Linked DNA regions of Homo sapiens. Changing the gene in region 1 together with any one later gene gives a genetic interaction. Each region holds a gene or a part of one and is shown on either strand. Other genes may lie near its edges. The genes, in order: CD22 and CAMK2B.

Evidence for each region.
Region 2: changes in CD22 (region 1) and CAMK2B together harm fitness more than expected from each alone (negative genetic interaction), as found in Homo sapiens cells (one large-scale study listed by BioGRID).

The regions. Positions count from the first base shown.
Region 1 is NC_000019.10:35,332,116-35,335,922, forward strand, and holds part of CD22 (B-cell receptor CD22 isoform 1 precursor), read left to right. Parts: intron 1-431; coding exon 432-809; intron 810-3,807. UniProt on the Homo sapiens protein: Most highly expressed siglec (sialic acid-binding immunoglobulin-like lectin) on B-cells that plays a role in various aspects of B-cell biology including differentiation, antigen presentation, and trafficking to bone marrow.
Region 2 is NC_000007.14:44,217,427-44,221,233, reverse strand, and holds part of CAMK2B (calcium/calmodulin-dependent protein kinase type II subunit beta), read left to right. Parts: intron 1-332; coding exon 333-408; coding exon of another isoform or gene 409-412; intron 413-523; coding exon 524-618; intron 619-939; coding exon 940-1,172; 3' UTR 1,173-1,174; intron 1,175-1,711; 3' UTR 1,712-3,807. UniProt on the Homo sapiens protein: Calcium/calmodulin-dependent protein kinase that functions autonomously after Ca(2+)/calmodulin-binding and autophosphorylation, and is involved in dendritic spine and synapse formation, neuronal plasticity and regulation of sarcoplasmic reticulum Ca(2+) transport in skeletal muscle.

The DNA.
Region 1 (3,807 bases):
TCAGTGGGCACTGGAGGAGGAGGAAAGACCCAGGCAGAGAGGCGTCAACATAGGGTAGGGTGGGGGCAGCGGTGTGTATAGATAAATGTACATACAAATATATATGTTTCCCATATATACATACACTTCTCTCATTGCATCCTGCTGTCTTTGTGTATCTCTGTATTTCTCCCACTATCTTCAGAGGGAATTCTTTAGTCTTTAGAAAGCTCTCTGCTGGGTGCAGTGGCTCATGCCTGAAATCTCAGCACTTTGTGAGGCTGAGGTGGGAGGATCACTTGAGGTCAGGAGTTCAAGGCCAGCTTGGACAACATAGCAAGACCCCTATCTCTAAAAAGAATAAAAAATTAAACAAATTTTAAAATAAAAAATAACTTTTAAAAGAAGGCTCTCATGCCCCCTTAGTAATGCTTTCTGATCACTGTGGTGAGTTCTAGAATACTTGGCTTTCTCTGACTCAAGTAAATGGGTTTTTGAGCACCCTGAAACCCTCTACGCCTGGGAGGGGGCCTGCGTCTGGATCCCCTGCACCTACAGAGCCCTAGATGGTGACCTGGAAAGCTTCATCCTGTTCCACAATCCTGAGTATAACAAGAACACCTCGAAGTTTGATGGGACAAGACTCTATGAAAGCACAAAGGATGGGAAGGTTCCTTCTGAGCAGAAAAGGGTGCAATTCCTGGGAGACAAGAATAAGAACTGCACACTGAGTATCCACCCGGTGCACCTCAATGACAGTGGTCAGCTGGGGCTGAGGATGGAGTCCAAGACTGAGAAATGGATGGAACGAATACACCTCAATGTCTCTGGTAAGGCCTTCGGGGAGCGGGTCCTCTGCTCTGGGCAGGGGTGAGTGGGAGGCAGGAAATACCTGACTCCTGGCACAGAGCTCACAAACCGAGCTTCCTGCAGAGCTCAGGCAGGGGACGCCAGCGGATGACGATGGCGATGCAGCAGCACTAGACAGAGCTGCGGGACCTCGGATGTCCCATCTGACCCTCAGTTCCTGCCCCTCTGGGACCTGGATTCCAAAGTTATCGGATCTCCTGATCTTTCCCTCTTTCTTTCTCACCATGTATTTTTCAGCTTTTGTGACAAACTCGTGTTTGGCCTTAGTACTGGAACCATCCAAGCACCGCATTCCTTTAGTGGGGTGGGTCTGCATGTAACCAGCCTCAGCTCTCCCCCAGGCTGGACCGCCCCCTTCAGACATTGGGGTCTGAAGCTGCATCGCTCACCCCAAACTTAGGGCTGCTCAGAGCTCCCTATAGAGGAAACTGGGTGTGGAACGGAGTAACCACACTCCCTAGGGCAGAGGCCCCAGACCTGTGTTTGATGGGTCAAATCCACCCCTACATGTGCAGTGCCATAACTGAGCCTGTGTTATAAAAATCATAAAATGTTTGTTTTACTTTTTTTCCTCTTCTTTTCCCCTTCCCCTTCCTTTCCCTTTTTATGAGACAGGGTCTCGCACTGTCATCACCCAGGCTGGAGTGCAGTGGCGCGATCTCAGCTCACTGCAGCCTTGATCTCCCGGGTTCAAGCAATCCTCCCACCTCCAAAGTAGCTAGGATCACAGGTGCATGCCACCATGCCCAGCTAACTTTTTAATTTGTTGTAGAAATGGGTCTTGCTATGTTGCCAGGCTGGTCTTGAACTCCTGGCCTCAAGCAATCCTCCTGCTTCAACCTCTCAAAGCATTAGGATTACAGGCATGAGTCACCGCACCCGGCCTGATCTTCTGATTTTTCAAGAGACGATGGAAATCTAGATTTTCCAGTGAAATCTCCCAGCATGTTAATGTTCATGGCAAGTTCTCATGAGCTCTTCAAGGTCAGATGACACTGTTGTTGAACCCCAAAGGCCAGGTTTGAGCTCCCGATGCGTAGTCAGCCAAACACTGACACCTCAGTGCTTAGAAGCTGAGATAGGATTATTTAATTTAGCCAAAGCAAGGGGACAGAAGAGAGAAACTCTCAAATCTGACCTGACTTTGAGCGTTAGTGGGGGCTTTTATGAGTAAAGTAGGTGTGCAGGAGGTGACCTCCCGATCGTCAAAGCTGTTGTGCCCCTCGGCTCATCAAATTTCTGGATGTCATCAAGGAGGTCTGTGTGACCTAAGGATCATTGTTCTTTGAAAGAGAGACAAGTTCATTTATCTTGCAGGCAGCTGCCAGGGAGTCAGGATGTAAGTTAAACAATTATGAGTGAATTAATGGTTACCTGCTACTGAAATGACCAAATGTAACTAATCATGCATGGAGGAAGGAAAGGACAAAGAGAAAAGAAAAGAAGTAAAACGAACATCTTATAATTTTTATAACATAGGTTCAGTTATAGCACTGCACATGTAGGGGTGGCTTTGACCCATCAAACACAGGTGTGGGGGGCCCCTGCCACAGGGAGTGTGGTCACTCCGTTCCACACCGTTTCCCGGATGGGCAGTTCTGAGCAGCCTTAAATTTGGGGTGAGCAATGCAACTTCAGACCCCGCTGTCTGAAGGAGGTGGTCCAGCCTTGGGGAGAGCTGAGGCTGGGTGCACACAGACCCACTCCACTAAAGGAATGCGGTGCGTGGATGGCTGCAATACTGAAGGAAGCCATGAAAGTAACACAAGTTTGTCAAAGCTGAAAAGTCCGTGAACTAAACTGATAAAATTCACTTAGAGGTGGTGGGAATAGGCCGGGCACGGTGGCTCACGCCTGTAATCCCAGAACTTTGGGAGGCCGAGGCAGGCGGATCACAAGGTCAGGAGATCGAGACCATCCTGACTAACACAGTGAAACCCTGTCTCTACTAAAAATGCAAAAAGTTAGCCAGGCGTGGTGGCAGGCGCCTGTAGTCCCAGCTACTCAGGAGGCTGAGGCAGGAGAATGGCGTGAACCCGGAAGGTGGAGCTTGCAGTGAGCTGAGATCACGCCACTACACTCCAGTCCGGGCGACAGAGCGAGACTCTGTCTCAAAAAAAAAAAAAAAAAAAAAAGAGGTGGTGAGGTGGTGGGAATAGAACTTTGCAATCATTCAGAAAGCAGACATCCGGCAATGAGCATGAAAGAAAAGTAGATCACAGTTCCCAAGGAGGCTTAGTGTGGTCAAGGCCTTTCAGAGGGGATTTCGGGTGAGCAAAAGTGATTCAAAGTGGAGAAAAGCAGGACTGCGTTGGGTGCAGTGGTTCCCGCCTGTAACCCCAGCACTTTGGGAGGCTGAGATCGGAGGATCGTTTGAGCCCAGGAGTTTGAGACCAGCCTGGGTAACATGGCAAGACCCTGTCTCTACAAAATGTTTAAAAAACTAGCTAGGTGTGGTGGCACATGCCTGTAGTCCCAGTTACTCAGGGGGCTGAGGTGAGAGGATTGCTTGAGCCTAGGAGGTTGAGGCTACAGTGAGCTAGGATTGCGCCACTGCACTCCAGCCTGGGTGACAAAGCAAGACCCTGTCTCTAAAGAAAAAAAGAGGCCGGGTGTGGTGGCTTACACCTGTAATCCCAGCACTTTGGGAGGCCAAGGCGGGAGGATCACTTGAGGTCAGGAGTTCAAGACCAGCCTGGCCAACATGGCGAAACCCTGTCTCTACTAGAAATACAGAAAAATTAGCTGGGTGTGGTGGTGGGCACCTGTAATCCCAGCTACTCGGGAGGCTGAGGCAGGAGGATCACTTGAACTGGGGAGGTAGAGGTTACAGCGAGCCAAGATCGCGCCACTGCACTCCAGCCTGGGTGACAGAGGGAAACTCCATCTCAAAAAAACAACAACACAACAACAACAACAATAACAACAAAAAAACAAAGCAGGACTGGAGAGAGGTGG
Region 2 (3,807 bases), on another chromosome or scaffold:
ACGTGGGGCCAGGAGGTGACCTCCAAGTGGATTGTGGGTGGGTTTTTTGTCCTCTTTCTGCATTTTCCAGGCATTTTGTAATGTGGATAGAATATTTCTGTTCTTCAAAAATACTTTAGTTAAGAAAAATAAGATGGAAGCTGTTGCACTTGAAAATGAGGAAGCCACTGGTGATGCAGGGGGGGCGGCGGAGAGGACCTCTTCTGCAAATAGCGGCAGGAACACGGCATGGATGCAGCTCGCGCTCCCCCAGGCCCTCCCCTGGGCTGTGTGGAGGGGTCCGGGGGGAATGGGCCAGCGCCCAGTGGTCACCTGGCCATGTCTCCCCACAGCCCGGAAGCAGGAGATCATTAAGACCACGGAGCAGCTCATCGAGGCCGTCAACAACGGTGACTTTGAGGCCTACGCGTGAGTCCCTGGGGCTGGGGGGGGGCTGTGCAGGACAAGGATGTGGGACCCTTGGGGGGGCCTGCTCAGAGTCAGGGGTCCACGGGGCCCCTCCTCACTTGGATTTGGCCCCCAGGAAAATCTGTGACCCAGGGCTGACCTCGTTTGAGCCTGAAGCACTGGGCAACCTGGTTGAAGGGATGGACTTCCACAGATTCTACTTCGAGAACCGTGAGTGAGGAAGCCCGGGTGGGCATGAGGGGGCGGTGCCCCCAGGAGAGCCTCTCGGCCCCTCCCAGGGACAGCATGGTGGCTGCCTATGGAAGCCCTGTCCCCTCTGTGCCCAGGGTTGGCCAGCCACCTCTCCCCCGCCAGAGGCCATACCCAGCCCCCAGAATCCCACTCTTGGAGGGGCCCATGCTGCTCCCAGGAGAGCCGAGCCTCCCCAATAAGGGGAGTTGAGAGAGGGAAAGGATTAGGCTGGTGGGGTGGAAGACGGGCACCAGGGCAGTCATGGTAACCCGAGACCCCCGCCCCGCCTGCTGTCCACAGTGCTGGCCAAGAACAGCAAGCCGATCCACACGACCATCCTGAACCCACACGTGCACGTCATTGGAGAGGATGCCGCCTGCATCGCTTACATCCGGCTCACGCAGTACATTGACGGGCAGGGCCGGCCCCGCACCAGCCAGTCTGAGGAGACCCGCGTGTGGCACCGCCGCGACGGCAAGTGGCAGAACGTGCACTTCCACTGCTCGGGCGCGCCTGTGGCCCCGCTGCAGTGAAGGTGAGTGTTCTGTGCTAAGTGACAGCTGGGGCAGAGGGGTGGCGGTGGTGTGAGTGGCTGCAGCCTGGGGAGGCGATGGGGAGCGGTGGGGCCTGTGCAGAGCCATGCCTGGGAAGTCCCTGAGCTTTCCTGGTGAGGCCACAGGAATGATGTCAAATTAGGGACCACGGCAGGCTGGGTGTGGCAGGCCTCCCCAGAGGACTGGGGAGCTGGTGAGGGCCTGAGCAGTCCACACTGGCCAGAGCTGGGTGGGTTGCAGGTGGATGGGCCCCGGGCAGCACAGTCCTGGGCACCATGCCCTGTTTGTGAGGACTGTTAGAGCCCCAGATGGGCGTTCCCCAGGTGGTGGGTGCAGCGGGCCCAGAGCCCAGTTTTACAGGGATAGTAGTAATTGGGTTGGGCACCTTGAACCTCTCTCCCGAGTGGGCCCTTTTCTGGACTTTAACCCTCTCTGCAGTGCCGCATGGCAGACAGCAGAGCCTGGGGGTGGATGGGAGAGGGGGCTGCTGAGGAGCTGACCCACCCGCCCCATTTCAGAGCTGCGCCCTGGTTTCGCCGGACAGAGTTGGTGTTTGGAGCCCGACTGCCCTCGGGCACACGGCCTGCCTGTCGCATGTTTGTGTCTGCCTCGTTCCCTCCCCTGGTGCCTGTGTCTGCAGAAAAACAAGACCAGATGTGATTTGTTAAAAAAAAACAAAAAAAAAAAAAAAAAAAACAAGATGACGACGACAACCACAAAAAAAATTGACATCAGATGAAATGAAAAAAAAAAAAAACAAAAAAAACTAAAGGAAGGAAAAAGCTGTAAAAATCACTGGCATTCGTGGGGCCACTCCCCACCCAAGCTCCACGTGTGTCCGTCTGTGCTCCTGGCCTCTGGGGGACCAGCTGGGACATGAACTTGTCTGCCAGGCCCCCGTCGCGTGCTGAACGGTGTTAGTTTGTAGGTAACGCACACACCCCACACCTAAGGTGTCTGCATCCTCCTGCCAACGCATGGGCTCCACGTGGTGTGCTCGCTGGCTGTCGTGACTGTCAGCTGTCTCTTGGGAGGGGCTGTGGGGGCCCGCTGGGCTGCCTCCTTTCCCGCTAGTTGTGCCTGAGAGTTGCTGTTGTTCCTGCTTTCCCTTCCCTTCCTTTCATCCCCTGAAGGGCTAGGTGTGGGTTTTCCGTGCCCGGTATCCCCACACACCCAGCACGGACAACCCTTCGGCAGAGCCCAGGCCGGCCCCTCACCCCCTGGAGTATTGAAACTGGAGTCCCGTCCCCAAGGCCTTCAGAGATGCCCCTACACACCCAGGGCTCCAGCTCTGGTCCTTCTGGGGGAGTAAAGTGCAAAGAGGGGCACAGCTTAGTTTTGGGCCTCTCGCCGAGCAAGAGACAGCACTGCTGGCTACAGCTCCAACACAGCCAGCTGTGGCAAGAGGACTCTGCCTGGGCTGGCCCCCCTCCTGTGTGAGGTGTCTGTCCCTTCTCTGCTGGCCAGCAGCAGATGCACTGGCAGCTCCCAACCCTGTTTCCGCCCCTCGGCCCTCCCCCAGCCTGTTCGGCTTCTCTGCAGCCCGCAAGGGGGAGCAGACTTTTGACAAAGGACTGCGGGCCTCGCTCAAGTCCCTGAGCCCCCAGCTGAAGCTGGGAGGGGAGGCCAGGCTTTGTGTCTGGGCATATTCGTCTGCTGATGGGGTTTGGGGAAGCCTGGGGCTTGGGGTTTGGTCGGGTGGTGCAGCTAGTGGCAGAGCGGGATCAGAGGTGGTGGCTGCCCAGCTTCTGGGCTGAGACAAGGGTCTGTGCAGGGGTTTACTGAAGTGGGAGTGCCTTTGGAATCTGGGCCGGGAGCAGAAGGGAGCAAAAGCTACAGTGGGAGCCAGCCTAGGGCACATGGGAGGCGTGAGGGCAGTGCTGCCCGTGCAGTGTCAGGTGTGCCAGTGCCTTGGCGGGCTGCAGTGCGTGTGAGGGCACCTTCTAGGTGGGCCAGGGATGCAGCTATGGAGATAAGGCGGGCTGGGGACAGAAACAGGTGGGCACAGGGCCCAGGACACCAGCGGATGGAGGGCAGGGTCTAGCCCTGTGCTCCTGAGCGTCGGCTGCCTGGGTTCGAGGCGGTGGGTCCCCGGCCCCTTGTGATGGTGTGTACCATGGGGGAGCTCGGGGACAGGGCAAGCCCGAGCATGGTGGGGCTGCAGGGTGGGTCTGAAGCCAGGTTGGGTGGGGGTGGTCACAAGCCCTGACTGCAGAGGGTCAGGGGCTCCTGCCCCAGTGCCTGCCCACTTTCAATTCACATTGTTTTCAACAAGGATTTTCTTTATCTTCCCCTACAAATCAAGCCAAGGGAGGGGCACAGAATGGGGAACAGGACACAGGATCCTAAACTCCAAGGGGACTGTCCACCGATGAACACTCAGAGTGGACACCATCTTCCGTCCACGCTGTGCCCAGGACAGCTGTCCCCATCCATGAACACAGGGTAAACATCTGCCGGGCTCCGCACCAGTGGCTCCCTGGGCCATGGGACAGCGGCAGGGCTCACCACGGACAGCACGTGGCCCAGCAGCCGGCCACCCTGGCGTCCTGGGGCCTCCTCCCCTCCTCTCCCTCTCACCTTGTCACCTCCACGGAGCTGCCTGTCTGGGATA